Linked DNA regions of Homo sapiens: region 1 is linked to region 2. The links come from fine-mapping of genetic effects on plasma protein levels. A gene starts in region 2. The other region holds a variant in brackets. All regions are shown on one strand. Distances are between the middles of the regions.

The links. PIP is the posterior inclusion probability: the model's chance that the variant is causal. Protein levels are from antibody-based Olink assays in UK Biobank. Linkage for the fine-mapping came from a reference panel and not from the study's own genotypes, which makes the PIPs less certain.
Region 1: its variant is fine-mapped to the plasma level of the BOLA1 protein (UK Biobank, PIP above 0.99).

What each region holds. Positions count from the first base shown.
Region 1 is chr1:149,904,772-149,916,757 of GRCh38, reverse strand. SV2A (synaptic vesicle glycoprotein 2A) reads left to right here. Exons shown (of 13, transcript NM_014849.5): 2 at 2,571-3,539; 3 at 4,778-4,958; 4 at 5,781-5,932; 5 at 6,055-6,188; 6 at 6,868-6,957; 7 at 7,187-7,297; 8 at 7,478-7,566; 9 at 8,552-8,716; 10 at 8,925-9,058; 11 at 9,902-10,108; 12 at 10,719-10,878; 13 at 11,561-11,986. The coding sequence starts at 2,918. The coding sequence ends at 11,744. Among named protein-coding and RNA genes, the nearest start is that of SV2A, 7.1 kb to the left of the region's middle. RefSeq lists enhancers at 5,580-6,079, 6,080-6,581. The variant T/C (reference allele first, on the strand shown) is at 6,410.
Region 2 is chr1:149,892,150-149,900,149 of GRCh38, reverse strand. It overlaps BOLA1 (bolA family member 1), which reads right to left and starts at 582. Exons shown (of 2, transcript NM_016074.5): 1 at 478-582; 2 at 1-140. The coding sequence starts at 90. LOC124904412 (a long non-coding RNA gene) reads left to right here and starts at 602. Exons shown (of 2, transcript XR_007066597.1): 1 at 602-672; 2 at 4,429-4,774. RefSeq lists an enhancer at 489-548.

The DNA of each region.
Region 1 (11,986 bases), 15 kb before region 2:
CACCTCCCACATTCTACCCCCGCCCCCGCGGACGTTTTGATAAGTGATTGCTTTTTAATGACCTTGTCACCTGAGCTAGGAAGGCCTGGGGATCTGGGTGGACCCCAAAGTCAGGGGCTTTGACTGGGAGGGTGGGGGGTTCTGGACCCAGGGCTGGATGAGCTGTTCTGAAAGAAAGCATTTGCTCTGGAGTCCCCTGCCTGTCTCCACCCTCTGCAGAAAATCTCCTGGGCACATTTTTTCCTGTCAGGTGAAGTCAGCCAGCCTAGGACCTTGTAACCCTGAACCTTGTCTCCTTTAACCTCCACCTCTCCAAGTCTTGTCTCACTCCCCCAGGCTTAGCCACCCTGTGCTGTTTTGGGGGCTAAAAATAGCACCACTTCCTCACCAGCTCAAAGAATTTGTCTTCTTTCTTTCTCTCCTGACCTCCTGGGCTTGCTGGCCCTGAGGAAGCTGGCTGTTGAGACCTCATATCCTGCTGTGGTTGTGGAAGGCTTCCCTGCCCTACGTGCCCCTCTCAGGGGGAAATAGGGTCAACAAACATAGAGTATGGCTCCTGGTGGGTCCTGCCTCCTTCAGGGCTGGAGGGGAGATCCTGGTTAGGAAAGAGAGGAAAGCTAGCAAATTGCCATGCGCTGAGGGGATTCCGCAGTTCCAGCTCTTTCATGGGGGATGGTTGGGCCCTGAACCATGAAGAAAAGGTGACATAGGGGTCACTGCTTCTGGTCACCGTGGTCCACTGCTTACATCTGTCCTGAGGGGATAAGGCGCTGCTTGCCAGTGCTTCTCTCTGAACCACATAGCATTGCTTACCGTCTTCTACCAGGGCGTGTGTGTGTGTGTGCGTGTGTGTGTGTGTGTGTGTGTTTTAATGAAGGCCCTGGATGGGTGGGAGCACCGGAGGCAGGATATTTTTAGGGGGATGATTTCTGATCAGAATCTAGGCCTGCTTCCTCTGCTCCTATGAAGGAAGGGGGCTATCCCATGCCTTCCTCTGGAGAATGTCTTTTTTGGGGGGACACCCAAACCCCCTTTATTCTACATCCGCCTCCTACGCAATGCGGTGTTTGTGGACTCCTTCTTCCTTGACTCCTGGAGGAGGAGCAGAAAGGATTAAGGGGGATTAGGAAGGGAGGCCCTGGAGGGATGGGATGCAACTGTAGGCCTTAGAACCTCATGTTGGAAATGTATGCATTTGACAGTCATTTCCATTCTCACCCCCATCTGTGGAAAGGGGGCCTATCTATGACATTCTGAAGCAAGGTGGCAGTGGACAGTCATCACCTCTTTCTTAGCTTTCCATCTTTCCTCCACTTTACTTGGGTTCCAGGTCCCCCTTTTCTGGATCTTCCCTTGTTCTTCTGGAGGTAGTTAATGTGGGCCCAGCTACTGGAATTAGTTGAAACATAGATAGGGGTGTCTTGGGACTCTGTTTGCAAGGATGCTGGGCAACAGCATCTAAGTATGACCCCCCTGTTGTCCCTTGCTGCTTCCTGTTTCTTTCCCACTTTCAACATCATAGGAAGGAAGAAAACTAACATAGAGTATCTACTGTGAGATTACATTCTCACATCAACTCCAAGAAACAGTCTCCCAATTTAATTATCCCCAGTTAAAATAGATGGACACTGAGGCTTAGGGAGGTTAACTACCCTGACTGAGATCAGTTAGTAAGTGGCAGAGTTGGGATTTCAACTTAGGTCACCCCTAACAGTCATGTGCTTTGCCCTGAACCAGGATTCTCCTTGCCAGTGTCCCTTCCTGCTGCTCACCCTAAAGAGCATCCAAGATAGCTTTCATCTGGGGACCTTATGAGGTAGTATAGGGCATTTCACTATATTACTGTCACCACAAAATTAATAATTAATATTTATTCATCATTTTTATGTGCCAGGTGACTTATGGTAAGGAGCATAGATACATTATATCATTCGACCCTTACTTTCCCCTTTTTAAACAAGAAGAAACTGAGGCTTGGTCCCTTAGCTAGTATTTGCCAAAACAGGAAGTCAACCCCATGTCTTTGTGACTCTGGAAGCTGAGCATTTACCCATTAGACTATGTTGAGAGAAAATCCCTCCTTGTTGAAGCCTGTAAACATGGGACCTGAGGGAAGGACAGTGGAAGCCCCTGCCTTCAGATGCCATCAGAGGAGGGAAGGCCACAGGTTGGAGGGCTTGTCCTCTTACACATCCTCCTCAACTCCACCCCTAGTAAGAAACCCAGGCAAGACTAAAGAAGGGAATTCTGGTTTCTCATATTTCCTGTTTAGTTCTTTGCAGATTGGTGATAAAGCAAGGGCTGGGGTGGGTTTGGGGGTAGGTGACTGCGACTTTGGAGCAAATTCCACAGGCCAGGCCTCCAAGGTCAAAGTAAGGGGACTTCTATGTGAGTGACCCGGTTAGCCCAGATAGCCATCCCTTTTTAGTGTGTGGATGGGAGCCTAAAGCGAGAAGACCATCTCTGCACCACATGGTCCAGATGGGGCTCTGGGTTGAGAGGCTTTATACTGGCCTTCTTCACCACCTTAGGACTCACAACTTCCTTTTGCTGTCTGTTATTTTTTCTAGGTCTCCAGAGGCTTGTGGAAGAGAAGCAGGCGACCCTTCCTGAGTTATCCTGGCTTAGCCTCCCAATCTGGCTCCCCTTCCCCTTCCCATTCCCCTGCTCCCCCTGTCCCTTCCCCATCCACCCAACTGAACTGGGTATAGGTCAAAGCTCCTCTCCTTCCTTTTCCTTCCTAGGCACTCATTGGCTAGGACCTGTTTGCTCTTTTTTTTGTGCCCAGAGATACTGGAACACGCTTCATCTAAGTAACTGTGGGGAGGGGTCTTTTTGACTCTACAAGTCCTTGAGCAAAAAGCTGAAAAAGAAGCAGGAGGTGGAGAAGACCCAGTGAAGTGCCCCAAGCCCCATCATGGAAGAGGGCTTCCGAGACCGGGCAGCTTTCATCCGTGGGGCCAAAGACATTGCTAAGGAAGTCAAAAAGCATGCGGCCAAGAAGGTGGTGAAGGGCCTGGACAGAGTCCAGGACGAATATTCCCGAAGATCGTACTCCCGCTTTGAGGAGGAGGATGATGATGATGACTTCCCTGCTCCCAGTGATGGTTATTACCGAGGAGAAGGGACCCAGGATGAGGAGGAAGGTGGTGCATCCAGTGATGCTACTGAGGGCCATGACGAGGATGATGAGATCTATGAAGGGGAATATCAGGGCATTCCCCGGGCAGAGTCTGGGGGCAAAGGCGAGCGGATGGCAGATGGGGCGCCCCTGGCTGGAGTAAGGGGGGGCTTGAGTGATGGGGAGGGTCCCCCTGGGGGCCGGGGGGAGGCACAACGACGGAAAGAACGAGAAGAACTGGCCCAACAGTATGAAGCCATCCTACGGGAGTGTGGCCACGGCCGCTTCCAGTGGACACTGTATTTTGTGCTTGGTCTGGCGCTGATGGCTGACGGTGTGGAGGTCTTTGTGGTGGGCTTCGTGCTGCCCAGCGCTGAGAAAGACATGTGCCTGTCCGACTCCAACAAAGGCATGCTAGGTAAGACATGGGGGGCTCCAGCCTTATCCCCTCAAACTCTGGAAACCTCCTTGCTCCTGGAAATTGCTCTTGTCCTTACCACTGGGTTCCCTAGGACCCTGCACCCAAGATGTTCCCAGAGGGCTCAGGGTTCCTCTGCACACTCTTCCCTCACACACTCCCTCTTCTTGGCCTTGGGTCAGGGTGAAGTTGAATGTGACAGAGGGGCTTGCGGGAGGGCAGCTGGACTGGGGCTTGGGCCAGTGGTTGGGTGGTGGTCTGCTTCATTCTGCAGGAGGTGGCTGTGGTAGGATGGTCCCTACCATTTAATGTTTCTTCATAGCTTTCCCTCTGGTTATCCTGTTCCCTTTCACTGATTGGGGAACAAGAAGCCAGTATCCAAACTCCTTGGTATAAATGGGGAGAGTCAGTTTGGGGTGGTTGGGGGAGGGGGGGAGGGTCCTGGATCTTCTGCCAGAGAAGCTGGTTAGACTTTCTCTCACTCAGATGGGAGTTTCCAGGGGACAGGATGTAGTCTTTGATGGCCTTTCCTGACAGGGACTCTGAGGAGGAACCCCGTAGACTCACAGAGAAAGAATCGAGGCCTTACTCTGCCACCAAATTGCCATGGGGTCTTGGACAGGTCTCTTCTTCCTGGGGCTTGGTTTGGGCATGGGAAAATGCAAAGTTTGGAGTAGATGATTTTAAAGATTAATTCCAGCTTTGGTTTTATGAAGGCAGTGAAAAACAGGAGAGTTTTTGGACCAGAAATATTGAGACTGGAAGGAGTAAAGGATGGATTTTGTGTGGGAGATTTCCTGGGAAGATGAAATGAATTGGAGCCCCTTTCCCCAGGAACAAATGAGAGCTCTCCTGCTGCTTTGAGGGATCAAAGCAGGGAGAATAGAGAGGACCCTGGGGTGGTCTGTGATCCTAGGCACACCCATTCCTCCTTCAAAGTGAGCCAGGGGTAAAGGTGTCACTGTGTGTGTGTCAGAGTGAGAAATGAGACAGACCGAAGAGAGTGGAGAGTTTGCAGGTTCTCCCATATCTTCATTCCTGCCTTTGAACCCCTGGCCTGCAGAGATGATCTTCTATCTTTGCTTACACCATTCATTTTCTCTCACTTGCTCTAATCTCTGGGTAGACTTACCTTCTAGAAGTTTTTCAGATCCTTCAGCTCCCTCAGTGCTCATCTCCTGGGAGAATTAAGGTGTGTCTGCTCACACCCCCTCTGCCTGTTTTCCTCCTCCTTCCAGGCCTCATCGTCTACCTGGGCATGATGGTGGGAGCCTTCCTCTGGGGAGGTCTGGCTGACCGGCTGGGTCGGAGGCAGTGTCTGCTCATCTCGCTCTCAGTCAACAGCGTCTTCGCCTTCTTCTCATCTTTTGTCCAGGGTTACGGCACTTTCCTCTTCTGCCGCCTACTTTCTGGGGTTGGGTGAGTGTACACTTCCTAAGTCCCTTGAGGGCAGGACTGTGCCTTGGTCACTGTTGTATCTTTAGGGCCCAGCACAGTGCCAGGCACACCAAATGCACCTTAAATCTGTGTGAGTTGAACGGATGAATGAGTTCCTTTCTCCCCCAGCCATCTTCAGGCCAGCTCCTCCCTGCCCAGGACCTGTCTGCTGCTGTCCAGAATGCTGTTCCTTGGCCCACTCCTGAGTCCTCCACCCCACCTCTAGTTCCATTTTTGAGCCTGCCTCCACAAAGAGGCCTAGTGGGCCTCAGCCCCACCCCTGGGCTCCTGTGGACCCAGAGTTACCCCCTACCAGAGTCTACACATTTCCTGCATTACACAACAAACCTTGCTAACACCCACACCTGCCAGAACCCTGACGCCTTGTCCGCACTGCCCCTTCACTTTTGCAAGCATGGCAGGCCCGCTTACTCTGCTTCAACTCCAAGCTCCTTTCTGGCCATTCCCACAACATCTGCCCTTGGAGGCTTTTGGCTTGTCTTTTTTCTCTGGAGATTTATTCTCTTTTCTGCAATTACTTTCCCGCCCTTCCAACTCTGTAATTCATTTTCAAGATTTAAGATTTGCTCTTTCCCTTTCCCTGAGACTCGCTTGCCTGTTTCCCATGGTCCCAAGGATGGGTGCTTGATGGCTGGCCCACATGGGAGCTTGTAAGGCTTTATGTGTGAGATGGAGTCTCTTCAAAAGCCTGGAAGACAAAAGGGGCTCGGGGTCCAGAGCAGTGGGGCAGGGGATCAGGACTATGGCCATTTGCTAATGCTGAATTCTTGAAATGCACTTCAGGATTGGAGGGTCCATCCCCATTGTCTTCTCCTATTTCTCCGAGTTTCTGGCCCAGGAGAAACGAGGGGAGCATTTGAGCTGGCTCTGCATGTTTTGGATGATTGGTGGCGTGTACGCAGCTGCTATGGCCTGGGCCATCATCCCCCACTATGGTGAGCAGCCCCCGGAAATCCACCCCAGGTTATCTCCCTCCTCCCTCTTCTTCTGTGCTCCCTGTGGTGGGTTCCCCCAGCCTCTGGCCTCTCTGCTGATGCTGTCACTTTCTCCCTACCAGGGTGGAGTTTTCAGATGGGTTCTGCCTACCAGTTCCACAGCTGGAGGGTCTTCGTCCTCGTCTGCGCCTTTCCTTCTGTGTTTGCCATTGGGGCTCTGACCACGCAGCCTGAGAGCCCCCGTTTCTTCCTAGAGGTGATGGGGCTGAGCTGCATGGGGTGGGGTGGGGTGCGGGCTGTGGAGTGTGGACGGCAGCAGGGGCTTCTGTGTTCAAACACCAACTGGAGTTTGATTTGATCCTGTTTGACTGCCTGCCTTCCTCACAGAGTCCACTCTCCAGGGGACTTTATCTTGCATTCTTTGCCTTGGAATGTGTCCCTGAGGGGTTCTTGGGTGGAGAAACCAGGGGACCTCTT[T/C]ACCCATGGATGACTTAAGATTTTGCAGGGAAGGGCCTTGGCCCTGTCCTGCATTTACAGCTCAAGAGACATTCCCACCCCCTATACCTTCCCCTCCTAACCCCAGCAGGATTAGGTCTTTGACTACATGCTTGCCCATCATTTCCCTTACCTTTGGTTTTTACATTCCTCTGTACTATGGAATTCCCAAGACCTGTGCTTGCCTTTTTCCCCTGGACAACACTCCCCACCCCCAACCCGCAGCTCTTGCCCAAGTCTGATTGTCTTGCTATACCTCAGCTTGGGGCTCTTTCAGAGTGGTGAGTGCATGCCCATAGGTCAGGGCTTGGTGGTGGGGTTGAGGGCTGGGAACCATTTAGTGTCCTGTGACTACAGAAGCCAGGTGGGAGGGAGGGGGTCTATAACTCTGGGTCAGGTAGGGGCTGACTTGGATGTGGGGATTGTGTCTTTGGCTCTAGAATGGAAAGCATGATGAGGCCTGGATGGTGCTGAAGCAGGTCCATGATACCAACATGCGAGCCAAAGGACATCCTGAGCGAGTGTTCTCAGTAAGCCACAGCCCTCCCGACTCAGACCTCCACGCCCTGCAGCCCCAGCCCCTACCTGGCCCCTCTCTGAGTACCCCCCACCTCAGACCACACTCTACCGTAAGGAGATTTTCAGGGTATCATATCCACCTCCTGCCTCCCATTTTGCTAATGCAGGGGAAACTGAGGCGCCTGGCCGATGTTGGGAAACACAGAGTGTGTGACTGCCCACCCCTTCTCTTGACCCCAGGTAACCCACATTAAGACGATTCATCAGGAGGATGAATTGATTGAGATCCAGTCGGACACAGGGACCTGGTACCAGCGCTGGGGGGTCCGGGCCTTGAGCCTAGGGGGGCAGGTAATGGTGGACGGGGTGGTAGATAGAAGGGAGTGGGGGAAGTGGAGAAGAAGGCAGGACTGAAGTCTATGTGTGTGGGTGATGGGTGAGCTGAAGGGAGGTGGGAGGGCAGAAAAGTGGGGATCTATGGGTGCTAGAACTTAGTATAGTCAAGGTCTGACTTTGTCTGGTCCCCTGTAGGTTTGGGGGAATTTTCTCTCCTGTTTTGGTCCCGAATATCGGCGCATCACTCTGATGATGATGGGTGTGTGGTTCACCATGTCATTCAGGTGAGGAGATGGGTGGGCTGGGTGATGTGTGGTGGTTGTGGTGGTGTGTGGGCTGGGAGAGAGGTGGGGAGAATGGAGATGCAGGGGACAAGCGATGAGGGAAGGTGCCATGCAGACCCCCTCTGATCCTGCAGCCAGCTCCTCTACTTCGCTAGTTCACTCAACAAACTTGTACTGTAGGCTGACCAGGATTCAGTTTCTATTCTGTGCTGGGATGAAACAGATGTGGTCCAAGGTCCTCCTGGAGTTTATGTTTTGGTTAAGAAGCAGGACGATGAGGCTCGTAATCCCAGCACTTTGGGAGGACGAGGCGGGCGGATCATGAGGTTAGGAGATCGAGACCATCCTGGCTACGGTGAAACCCCGTCTCTACTAACATACAAAAAATTAGCCGGGCATGGTGGTGGGCGCCTGTAGTCCCAGCTACTCTGGAGGCTGAGGCAGGAGAATGGTGTGAATCCGGGAGGCAGAGGTTGCAGTGAGTCGAGATCGCGCCACTGCACTCCAGCCTGGGTGACAGAGCGAGACTCCGTCTCAAAAGAAAAAAAAGAAGTGAGACGAAACTTGCTATGAAGCAGGGTGATGAGAGAAGGGTGGGGGAAGGGCAGTGGGAGCACTTGGGGCTTGGGCTGGGGTGGGGACCTAAGTCCTCAAAGGTGAATGGGAGTCAGACAGGTGGAGTGGGGGTGGCTGGGGTGGAGAAGAGTGTTTTTGGCAGAGGGAAAAGCAAATGCTTGGGAGGTAAGAAAAAGTATAGTGGCTGCTGTGCGAGACCCTGAAGTCCCCCAGGAGCGCAGCAACTGTTGAAGGGAGGAGCAGGGAGAAGCTGGTGAGGCTGGAGAGGAGCAAGGTCCTAACAGAGGTTGACTCCATTTCTCCCTTGTTCTGAGATGATACACATTTCCGTTTTCTCCTCTGCCTGATTCTAATCTCTGAGCCTTGTCTGAAGCCCTGTTGTCTGTTTCCATTGTCCTTGACTCTTCAGCTACTATGGCCTGACCGTCTGGTTTCCTGACATGATCCGCCATCTCCAGGCAGTGGACTACGCATCCCGCACCAAAGTGTTCCCCGGGGAGCGCGTAGAGCATGTAACTTTTAACTTCACGTTGGAGAATCAGATCCACCGAGGCGGGCAGTACTTCAATGACAAGTATGTGGGGACTTTTAAACTTCACTTCTTCCCTGTTCCTTCTACCTCGTCTCTTTTATGAGTCTAGGGGTTCAAGACAAGACATTTGGGGGGCAAACACTTGTGGTTTCTTCTCAATGCCCAGCTTCCCATTACTTCGCTAAAGAGTGAGTCTTGGAGGGGGCATGAGGATGACGGGGGAGTGTCTTTCACCATCCTGGCCTTACAGGTTCATTGGGCTGCGGCTCAAGTCAGTGTCCTTTGAGGATTCCCTGTTTGAAGAGTGTTATTTTGAGGATGTCACATCCAGCAACACGTTTTTCCGCAACTGCACATTCATCAACACTGTGTTCTATAACACTGGTAAGGCGGGGTGGCTGGTGGGTGTCAGACCAAAGGGTTGGGTGGACCTTGATGAGAAGGAACCTTTTTCATTCACTATCTTAGGGTTCTCAAGCTGAGATCCCTGGACCCCTGTGGGAAGGTGGCAGAGGGGCCTGATAGCTACCACCAATAATTCTGAAAATCTAATGGATGTTGGACATTTTCCTGTAATAGAATATCTGACAAAAACATCAAGTTTATTTGCCTTTGGCTGAAATTATAACTCAGTGAGGTAAAATTAATGCACTTTTGAAGAAGGTAAAAATCATCCAAAATAGCATTCTTGGGAAAAAGAAAAACAATCAATAAAAGGGGTATTTGGTGCGGATCATTGCATGAATCCACTCCTTTTTAATAGTGATTCTCAAACTTCAGTATATGCACACGAAATGCTGGTTTTGTGAGCTAGACTGAAATTTCCCACCTCATACTGGGCGAGCTTTTTCCATGTTGCAGGAAAACAACAATGGATAGGACTTTTTATTATTTTAAATGTTTTTCTCAGAAAAATTTCCTAAGTCCACGGCATCGCTACTGCTTATAGTCAGCTAGCACGGACAGAAAGAATGAATAAGCAGCTAAGACTATTAATGGGAGAACTTGGACAAAGTCACACTGTTGGACAGATGATGGTCATTTTCTGCTCTAAAGATCCCTAGTTCCCATGGTGATGTTATTTGATGTTTTGTGATTAGCACTGTGAATAATTTTGAGAGCCCCTCCTACTAACTTTCATACATGCAGAGCCCTGAGCCATAAGCCGTAACAGCCTCCCTCTCCCATCTGCTATGACTGCCTGCTTATCTTGGCCTTTGCCCACAGACCTGTTCGAGTACAAGTTTGTGAACAGCCGTCTGATAAACAGTACATTCCTGCACAACAAGGAGGGCTGCCCGCTAGACGTGACAGGGACGGGCGAAGGTGCCTACATGGTATACTTTGTGAGCTTCCTGGGGACACTGGCAGTGCTTCCTGGGAATATCGTGTCTGCCCTGCTCATGGACAAGATCGGCAGGCTCAGAATGCTTGGTAAGGGGGAGAGGCTGAGTCAGATCTGATAGTAGGGGCCAGGGGCTGCGGGAGGCAGTCAACAGGCTTCTCACCTTGGGCTGTGGAAGAGATTGGTCAGAGAGTTCCTCTCTCATGTTTTCTGTTTAGGGGGTGCTGCAGGATGGGGTGGGGACTGGCACAGAAGCTTCTCTGGGGGTAAAGGAGGTAAGCAGAATTGCAAGTGGTTAGGGCACAGGCTTTGAGGTTATGGGTTTTGAATCTCAGCTCCACCACCTGCCTCTGGCCTCTGGCAAATTACCTCTATGAGCCTGGTTGTTTCCTCTGCAAAATGGAGGTGATAATAGTACCTGTGTCATAGGGTTGATGTGCTAGATCAATGCATGTAAAGCATCAATTGCCTTGGCCCATGGCTGGCATTGAATAAATGATGGTTACTGATATTATTAATAAACAATTATAAGGGAGGTTGAGGAGGAGTGAAAAGCCTTCCTTTTGGATACCTTGGTTGGATACCTTCGGAACAAGTCTCATCCTGGGCTATCTGAAAGCCAGCTGATGGGACAGGGTGGGCTGTGGGTGGGTTTCACTGTGGCCAGGCTCATGTTGCTCTCTCCTCTCCTGGCTCCAGCTGGCTCCAGCGTGATGTCCTGTGTCTCCTGCTTCTTCCTGTCTTTTGGGAACAGTGAGTCGGCCATGATCGCTCTGCTCTGCCTTTTTGGCGGGGTCAGCATTGCATCCTGGAATGCGCTGGACGTGTTGACTGTTGAACTCTACCCCTCAGACAAGAGGTAGTTGGAATGTGTTGGAGGCAGGGCAGTGGATTCAGGGGAGGGGTGGGGTGAGGAAGGAGGGCTGAATGGGAAGAGCATCCTTAGGGGTGAGAGGATATACATTTCCATTTTCTCCTCTAAAATCTGGTAGCTTTGGCCGGGCACGGTGACTCATGCCTGTAATCCCAGTGCTTTGGGAGGCCGAGGCAGGCAGATCACCTGAGGTCAGGAGTTTGAGACCAGCCTGGCCAACATGGTGAAACCCTGTCTGTACTAAAAATACAAAAAGTTAGCTGGGTGCCTGTAATCGCAGCTACTCAGGAGGCTAAGGCAGGAGAATTGCTTGAACCCGGGAGGTGGAGCTTTCAGTGAGCCGAGATCGCACCACTGCACTCCAGCCTGGGCAACAGAGCAAGACTCCGTCTCAAAAAAAAAAAAAAAGGAAAAAAAAATCTGGTAGCTTTTGTATCTACTCCTCAAAGTCTTAACTGTTAACCTCAATTTTTGGTCTCCTTTCCCTTTGTCTCTCAATTTATTTACATTCCTGGTGTACATCCTTTACCTCTCTGATCTCTCCAACCTTCTCTCTCCCTCTTGGACACTGCCTGCATCTTCCTGGACTTCACTTCCCTGCCCTCCACTCTTCCTTTGCCTCCCTCCTGTACCTTGCGCCGTGCTGCACTGGGGGACTCCTGAGCAGGACCACAGCTTTTGGCTTCCTGAATGCCCTGTGTAAGCTGGCAGCTGTGCTGGGGATCAGCATCTTCACATCCTTCGTGGGAATCACCAAGGCTGCACCCATCCTCTTTGCCTCAGCTGCCCTTGCCCTTGGCAGCTCTCTGGCCCTGAAGCTGCCTGAGACCCGGGGGCAGGTGCTGCAGTGAAGGGGTCTCTAGGGCTTTGGGATTGGCAGGCACACTGTGAGACCAACAACTCCTTCCTTCCCCTCCCTGCCCTGCCATCCTGACCTCCAGAGCCCTCACTCCCCACTCCCCGTGTTTGGTGTCTTAGCTGTGTGTGCGTGTGCGTGTGCATGTGTGTAAACCCCGTGGGCAGGGACTACAGGGAAGGCTCCTTCATCCCAGTTTTGAGATGAAGCTGTACTCCCCATTTCCCACTGCCCTTG
Region 2 (8,000 bases):
ACCGATGGCCCCGGATCCCGCGCTGCCCTGGCACAAACAAACGCGGCCAGCCATGGAGACCAGACCCAGGACCAGCCGCCCACTCAGCATGGGCTACGCCAGAGACTCAGACGCCAGGAGTGAGGGTCGGGGCGATCCGCCTGGTGAGAGCACAATGTCAACACCCGCCCCGCGATCCCCGCATCCGCCCTAACCCCACGCCCGGACGTCCACACCAGCTCCTATAGGGAGCCCGCCTTGATGCCACACGGGGAGACCCGAGACACCGCCCCTTTTCTCTACGTGACGTGGTGAATTCGACCTCCAGCTGTGGAAGTGAAGGGACAAGCGAAGATTAGAAAGGCCCGCACGCGAGGCGCGTTCGTTCCTTAGGGGATTTGCAAAGAATGGGCAAAAGTAGGGCATGTGCAACTGCGTACTTGTGGTTGGGCCGAAGCCCCTGTGTTCCCTGTGAAGCCCCGGAGACGCCCCTTCTACCTGCCGCTCAGCCTCGGCCACTGCGATTCCCGCTCAGGGCCAGGACTCTGGACGCTCCGGAGCAAAATGCAGTCCTGGCGCCCTTCCTGAGGCACGCTGGGAAATGGAGTCCTCGCTGCGCGTTGGTAGCACGGGCAGGCACCACGTGGTGCCCTGAGGGCTCATGGGAACTGTAGTCTCGGATTCTCCCCACTGGTAAGGTGGTCAGAAAGTCTGAACCCAGCAATGCAAAGAAAAAGGGAATTCACGCGCAGTTGGGATTGGGATTATTAGATCTATTTTACTGCCAATAGATCTTGTAGATCATCCAGCCCAACTCCTTTATTTTATATGCAAGAAAATGGAAGTCTGATTGAATACATAATTACTGTGCCCCAGACTAGTGCTGGGGACTGGGGAGTCAAGTCAGGCCCTGTTTTCAAGGAGACAACAGAGCACTGAAGACTAACAAGTGAGCGGACAATTGCAATACTGGGTACTAGGTGCTACGATGAGATAAACACAGGATGCTAAGGAGGCAAGTTACCCAGACTTGGCCGGGGTTGGAGAGGTGGAATGGGAGGCGGGCAGAGAATATTTCCGAGATTTAGGGAAACAGTTCAGCAGAAACAACATGAGAATCCATTTCTCAGTCCCTCATAGTGAGGTTTTGGCTTTGGTAGCTGCATGTGTAAAGGACAGGAGGAGAGAGAATTTTGAGGGAGTCTTTCCTTCTGGTGTAGTTAGGGTGTGGTTATGTGTGGTTGGAGCCTAGGGGGCAGCTGATGGTGATGAGTAGGGTACCAGGAGGAGAGGAACGGGCCAGACCACCCCAGGCCTTGTAGCCCTTGTTAGGCAATTTTGTCTTTATCCTAGAAGTAGTGGGAAGCTACTGAGGTTTTAAGCAGGGATGTAACAGGATGTAATTTTTCCAGGATGATTCTTAACTTGTAAAATTATTTAAATTTTATTTTGTATCCTTAATATATTTACATATTTCTAAATGTTTTTCCCCAACTTCTCATTTTGAAAAATGTCAAAGCCACAGAAAAGTTGAATAGTTCAAAGCAACACCCTCTACCTTTCACTTGACCCACCATTTTTTGCATTTATATTTATTTTATACTTGTACATATATACTCATATATTTAAGTACTTTACATATACTTTAAAATATATTTATATGCTTTTTTGGATGAACCATTTGAAAGTAAGTTGCAGATAGCATGACATTTCACCCCTAACTACTCCAATATGTATCTCCTAAGAACAAAGATATTCTCATACATAACCACAATAACCTTATCACACTCAAGAAATTTAAACTATGACATACACTGTTTTCCCTAGCCTTTAAAAAAAATTAAAACTTCCAGAAAATTTGCAAGATTAATACAATGAGCAACCCATTTATCCACTCTTCACCTAGGTTCACTGATAAGATTTTGCCAGACTTGGCTTTGTATCTCTTTTAATGTATGTGTGTATAATAATAATGAAATAATAATAATTATTTCTGCTGAATCACTTGAGTTAGGTGCAGAAATCTTATTTATTTATTTTTTTTTGAGATGGAGTTTTGCTCTTCTTGCCCAGGCTGGAGTGCAATGGCGTGATCTTGGCTCACTGCAACCTCTGCCTCCTGGGTTCAAGCAAGTCTCCTGCCTCAGCCTCCTGATTAGCTGGGATTACAGGCATGTGCCAACATGCCCGGCTAATTTTGTATTTTTAGTAGAGACGGGGTTTCTCCATGTTGATCAGGCTGGTCTGGAACTCCCAACCTCAGGTGATCCACCCTCCTCGGCCACCCAGGATTACAGGGATTACAGGCGTGAGCCACTGCGCCTGGCCCAAAATTCTTTTTTTTTTTTTTTTTAAACAGAGTCTCACTCTGTTGCCCAGACTGGAGTGCAGTGGCGCCATCTTGGCCCACTGCAACCTCCACCTTCTGGGTTCAAGTGATTCTCCTGCCTCAGCCTCCTGAGTAGCTGGGACTACAGGCTGGTGCCACCATACCTGGCTAAATTTTTTTGCATTTCTAGTAGAGATGGGGTTTCACCATGTTGGCCAGGCTGGTCTGGAACTCCTGACCTCAAGTGATCCTCCTGCTCTGGAACTCCTGACCTCAAGTGATCTGCCTGCCTCAGCCTCCCAAAGTGATGGGATTACAGGCGTGAGCCACTGCACCCAGCCACAAAATTCTTTTTTTTTTTTTTGAGATGGAGTTTCGCTCTTGTTGCCTAGGCTGGAGTGCAATGGTGCGATCTTGGCTCACAGCAACCTCCGCCTCCTGGGTTCAAGCGATTTGCTTGCCTCAGCCTCCCATGTAGCTGGGATTACAGGCGTGCGCCACCACTCTGGCTAATTTTGTGTTTTTAGTGGAGACGGGGTTTCTCCATGTTGGTCAGGCTGGTCTTGACTCAGGTCATCAGTCCGCCTCGGCCTCCCAAAATGCTGGGATTATAGGCGTGAGCCACTGCGCCTGGCCCCACAAAATTCTTTACACTTAATTGCTATGTACTTTCAATGTGTATCTCCTAAGAACAAGGACATTTTCATACATATCCACAATACCATTACCACATCCAAGACATTTAACATTCATACAATACTATAATCACATACAGTTGATATTCAGATTTCCCCAACTGTCTCATTGGTGTCTACTATAGTTTGAATATGTCTCCTCCAGAATTCATGTTGAAAATTAATCCATGGTGTTGGTATTAAGTGGTGGGGCCTTTAGGAGGTAATAAGGCTATGAGGGCTCCACCCTCAAGAATGGACTAACGCCTTTTGAAAGAGCTTGAGGGGGTAAGTTGGCCCCTTCTGTCCCTTCTGCCATGTAAGGTCACCTCGATGGCGTATCTATGAGGAACTGGCCTTCACTAGATACCAAACCTGCCAGTGCCGTAATCTTGGACTTCCCAGCCTCCAGAACTGTGAGAAAATACATTTCTGTTTATAAATTACCCAGTCAGTGGTATTTTGTAATAGCAGCACAGTCTAAGTAAACATTATAAATGTTTAATTTTCAGAAACCAATCAAGGATCATGCATTGCATTTAGCTGACTTTAAGTTTGTATTCTGCAAAGATCACTGGCTTCAGGGTGGAGAATGGATTGTAGAGGAGGCAAGAGTGGAAACAGGGAGACAAGTTGGGAGGTTACTGTAGCAGTCTAGGTGAGAGATGATGATGATTTGGACCAAGGTGGTGGTGGTGGTGGTGGAAATGGAGAGAAATTGTGGCTACAGGATGTATATTAGGAAAGTAAAACCTACAGGGTGTGGTAATGGCTTGGTTGTGGGAGGGAAAGTGTCAAGGATAATTACAAGGTTTGTGCATCTAAAGTTAAAAAAAACAGTTCAAATAATTCCTGTATATCCTTTATCCTGATACCTAGATTACCCAAATATTAACAATTCACTGTTTGTTTTATTTGTATGTACCTATCTACAAATATATAATTATTTTCTGGACTGTTTGAGACTAAGTTTCAGAGATAAAGCCTATTAAACTCTACCTGTGATGGTTAACTTTTTTTTTTTTTTTGAGATGGAGTCTCACTCTGTCGCCCAGGCTGGAGTGCAGTGATGCAATCTTGGCTTACTGCAACCTCTGTCTCCTGGGTTCAAGTGATTCTTGTGCCTCCGCCTCCTGAGTAGCTGGGATTACAGGCGTGGACAATGGCGCCTGGCTAATTTTTGTATTTTTAGTGGAGAGGGGGGTTTCACCATGTTGGCCAGGCTGGTCTCAAACTCCTGACCTCAGGTGATCCACCCACCTCAGCCTCCCAAAGTGCTGGGATTAGAGGCGTGAGCCACCACGCACGGCCTGTGATGGTTAATGTCCCAACTTCTAGAGGATTGGTGCTCAGATATTTGGCCAAATATGGGTGCTTCTGTGAGAGTATTTTGAATGAGATTAACATTTGAATTGGAGACTGAGTAAATTGCCCTCCCTAATATAGGTGGGTCCCATCCAACCAGTTGAAAGCTTGACTAGAACAAAAGACTGACCCACTCCGGAGTAAGAGAGACTTCCTTCTGCCTGACTGCTTTGAGACCCGGACATTGGCTTTTCTCAGCCTTCAGACTCAGAAGTAAACACTGGCTCCATCTGGGTCTTAGACTCGGCCTTTGGACTGGAACTACACCATTGGTTCTCAGGCCTTTGAACTTGGACTGGAACTATATCATCAGTTCTCCTGGGTCTCCAGCTTGCCAACTTACCCTGAAGATCTTGGGGATCTTGGGATTTATTAGCTTCCATAATCAAAAAGCCAATTTTTTATAATAAAACTATCTATCAAAATATCTACCATTCGTTCTGTTTCCCTGGAGAATCCTGACTGATGTATATTTACTTAAAAAAAAAAATTTTCTCACATAGCCGGAATATAACTGTCAGACTCTAGAAATGAACACAGATACGGTACTATTATCTAATCTACAGACCTTATTCAAAATTTGCCAATTGTTCCACTACTATCATATATATAAAATGAAAAGAAATATCTTCTGGTCCAGGATCCAATCTAGGATGACGTGTTGCATTCAGTTGTTATATTTCTTTGTTCTCCATTAACTTGAAATAGTTTCCTAGATTTTCTTTGTCTTTCATGACTTTGGTAATTTTGAAGTTACAGACATTTATTTTGTAGAATGTCCCTCAATCTGGGTTTGTCTGATGTTTCTTTATGATTAAAATTTAGCACATGCATTTTTGGCTGGAATACTGCAGAAGTAATGTTGAATTCTTCTCTGTGAACCTTACCAGGGCACGTGATCTTTTTGTTATTACTAGTGATAGTTCTGATCACTTGATTAAGATGGTATCTGTCAGGCTTTTCCACTATAAAATTCCTTTTCTGTCTGTAATTGTGGAAGATACTCTAAGTGTATCTACTTTCCTAATTCTCATTAAGTTTTTTCCCACTAATTTTAGCATGTGAGAAGTATATTTGAGACATCTCTTAGTTAGGGGTTGTTGAAGATGAAATGAGATCATGGGGGTGGGGCTGGGGTGTGGTATGTGATCACCTGGGGAGAGAGTGTACAGTGAGAAAAGAATCAGAATGTCTATTAGAAAGGCCACTCTGGTGAGGAGTGGGAAGAGTAGAAGCAGGGAGAGGAGTAGAAAAGTCTTTGTTGGTAGTCTGGGTGAAAGATAACCTGAGTGAAGGCACGAGATGGGCTAGAGAGAAGTACATTGATTAGAAAGCTGCTACAAAGATGGCATCTATAGGACCTGCTTTGGTTAGGACCTTGCAGTTTGCAAATCCAGTGACAGTGTTAGGCAGAGGTAGGAGGCTGAGGTCAGGGAAAGCCTAGGTGTGAAGGTAACATTGAAACAGAAATTTGAATGACTAGAGGGAACTAACCACGTGGAAAGAGAGATCCAGGCACAATGAATGGTATATTCACTATATTCTAGATGTGTGATGCCAAGCTCAGTGTTGACATACTTAGGTGTTCAATAAGATATATTGGATGGATGAGTGAATTGATGTATGAATGGAGACGGCAACTTCACTATTATTGCTGTCGTAAAAATAAACGAAAGCTTTGCAAGTTGCGAGCTCCACAGGGCAAGCTTATTGTCTTTGTTTCTAATAAAAATATAGTCATAATAATATCTACTATTTAATGAAGGTCTGTCGTGGTCAGATTAAGGCTTTTAGAGGCTTTAAGCACCGAGAGATTATGTTAGCCACCTCATACACAATTAAACAAAACAACCAAACAATAATAAACACTCATTTGTAACATGAGGATTGGGATGCCCAACAAAGTACTCATTGTTTTCCCCATGATGACTCCTTCAATTTTGTTTATATTTAAAAATTGTGCTTACTGAGGTATGATGTACATGTAAGAGATTTATAAATCTAGGCCGGGCGTGGTGACTCACGCTTGTAATCCCAGCACTTTGGGAGGCCAAGGAAGGTGGATCACTTGAGATCAGGAGTTCGAGACCAGCCTGGCCAACATGGTGAAACCCCCTCTCTACTAAAAATACAAAAATTAGCTGGGCGTGGTGGCAGGCACCTGTAATCCCAACTATTTGGGAGGCTGAGGCATGAGAATTGGCTTGAACCCGAGAGGCAGAGTTGCAGTGAGCTGGGATCACGCCACTGCACTCCAGCCTGGGTGACAGAGGGAGACTGTCTCAAAAACAAACAAACAAAAAAACCCCTATAAATCTTAAATGTAGAGCTGAATTTTACATATGAATATGCCTATATCAAGATAAAGAAAATTCCCAGCACCTCAGAAGACTTCCAGGGAAGTCAGTATTACCCTGCCACAGTTAATCATTAGTCTCATTATTCTAACCTTTATCACCATAGATTACTTTTTGTTTGTTTGTTTTTGAGACAGAGTCTCGCTCTGTTGCCCAGGCTGGAGTGCAGTGGTCCGATCATGGCTCACTGCAACCTCCACCTCCTGGGTTCAAGCGATTCTCCTGCCTCAGCCTCCTGAGTAGCTGGGACTACACAGGTGCATGCCACCACGCTGGGCTAATTTTTTGTATTTTTAGTAGAGATGGGGTTTCACCATGTTGGCCAGGCTGGGCTCGAACTCCCGACCTCAGGTGATCCGCCTGCCTTGGCCTCCCAAAGTGCTGGGATTACAGGTGTGAGCCACCGTGCCCGGCCTCAGATGCTAATCTCTTTCAGAAATACCCAGAAAAATGGGCCAGGCGTGGTGGCTCATGCCTGTAATTCCATCATTTTGGGAGGCTGAGGCGGGCGGATCACCTGAGGTCGGGAGTTTGAGACCAGCCTGACCAACATGGAGAAACCCCATCTCTACTAAAAATACAAAATTAGCCAGGCATGGTGGCTCACGCCTGTAATCTCAGCTACTTGGGAGGCTGAGGCAGGAGAATCGCTTGAACCCGGGAGGTGGAGGTTGCTGTGAGCCGAGATCACGTCATTGCACTCCAGCCTGGGCAACAAGAGTGAAACTCCGTCTCAAAAAAAACAAAAAACAAAAAACAAAAACAAAACCCAGAAAATGTTTTACTAGCTATTGGGCTAGGCAAGTTGACTCATAAAATGAACCATCATATCCTCCTAATCTAGCTGTGGGGCCTCTCAGGTTCCCAAGCTCTCTACTAGGTTATTTACATTTATTCTCCTTTATTCCAGCAACCGTATTATGGTAGGCTATATTATTATTATTATTATTATTATTATTTTTTGAGACGGAGTCTCGCTTTGTCACCCAGGCTGGAGTGCAGTGGCACGATCTCGGCTCACTGCAACCTCTGCCTCCCGGGTTCAAGCAATTTTCCTGCTTCAGCCTCCTGAGTAGCTGGGATTACAGGTGCCCACCACCATGCCCAGCTAATTTTGTATTTTTAGTAGAGATGGGGTTTCACCATGTTGGTCAGGCTGCTCTCGAACCCCTGACCTCGTGATCCACCTGCCTTGGCCTCCCAAAGTGCTGGGATTACAGGTGTGAGCCACTGTGCCTGGCCTGTATTATTTTTATTTAACTGATGAGCTTCTATCTTCCATCATTCTGTTTACCA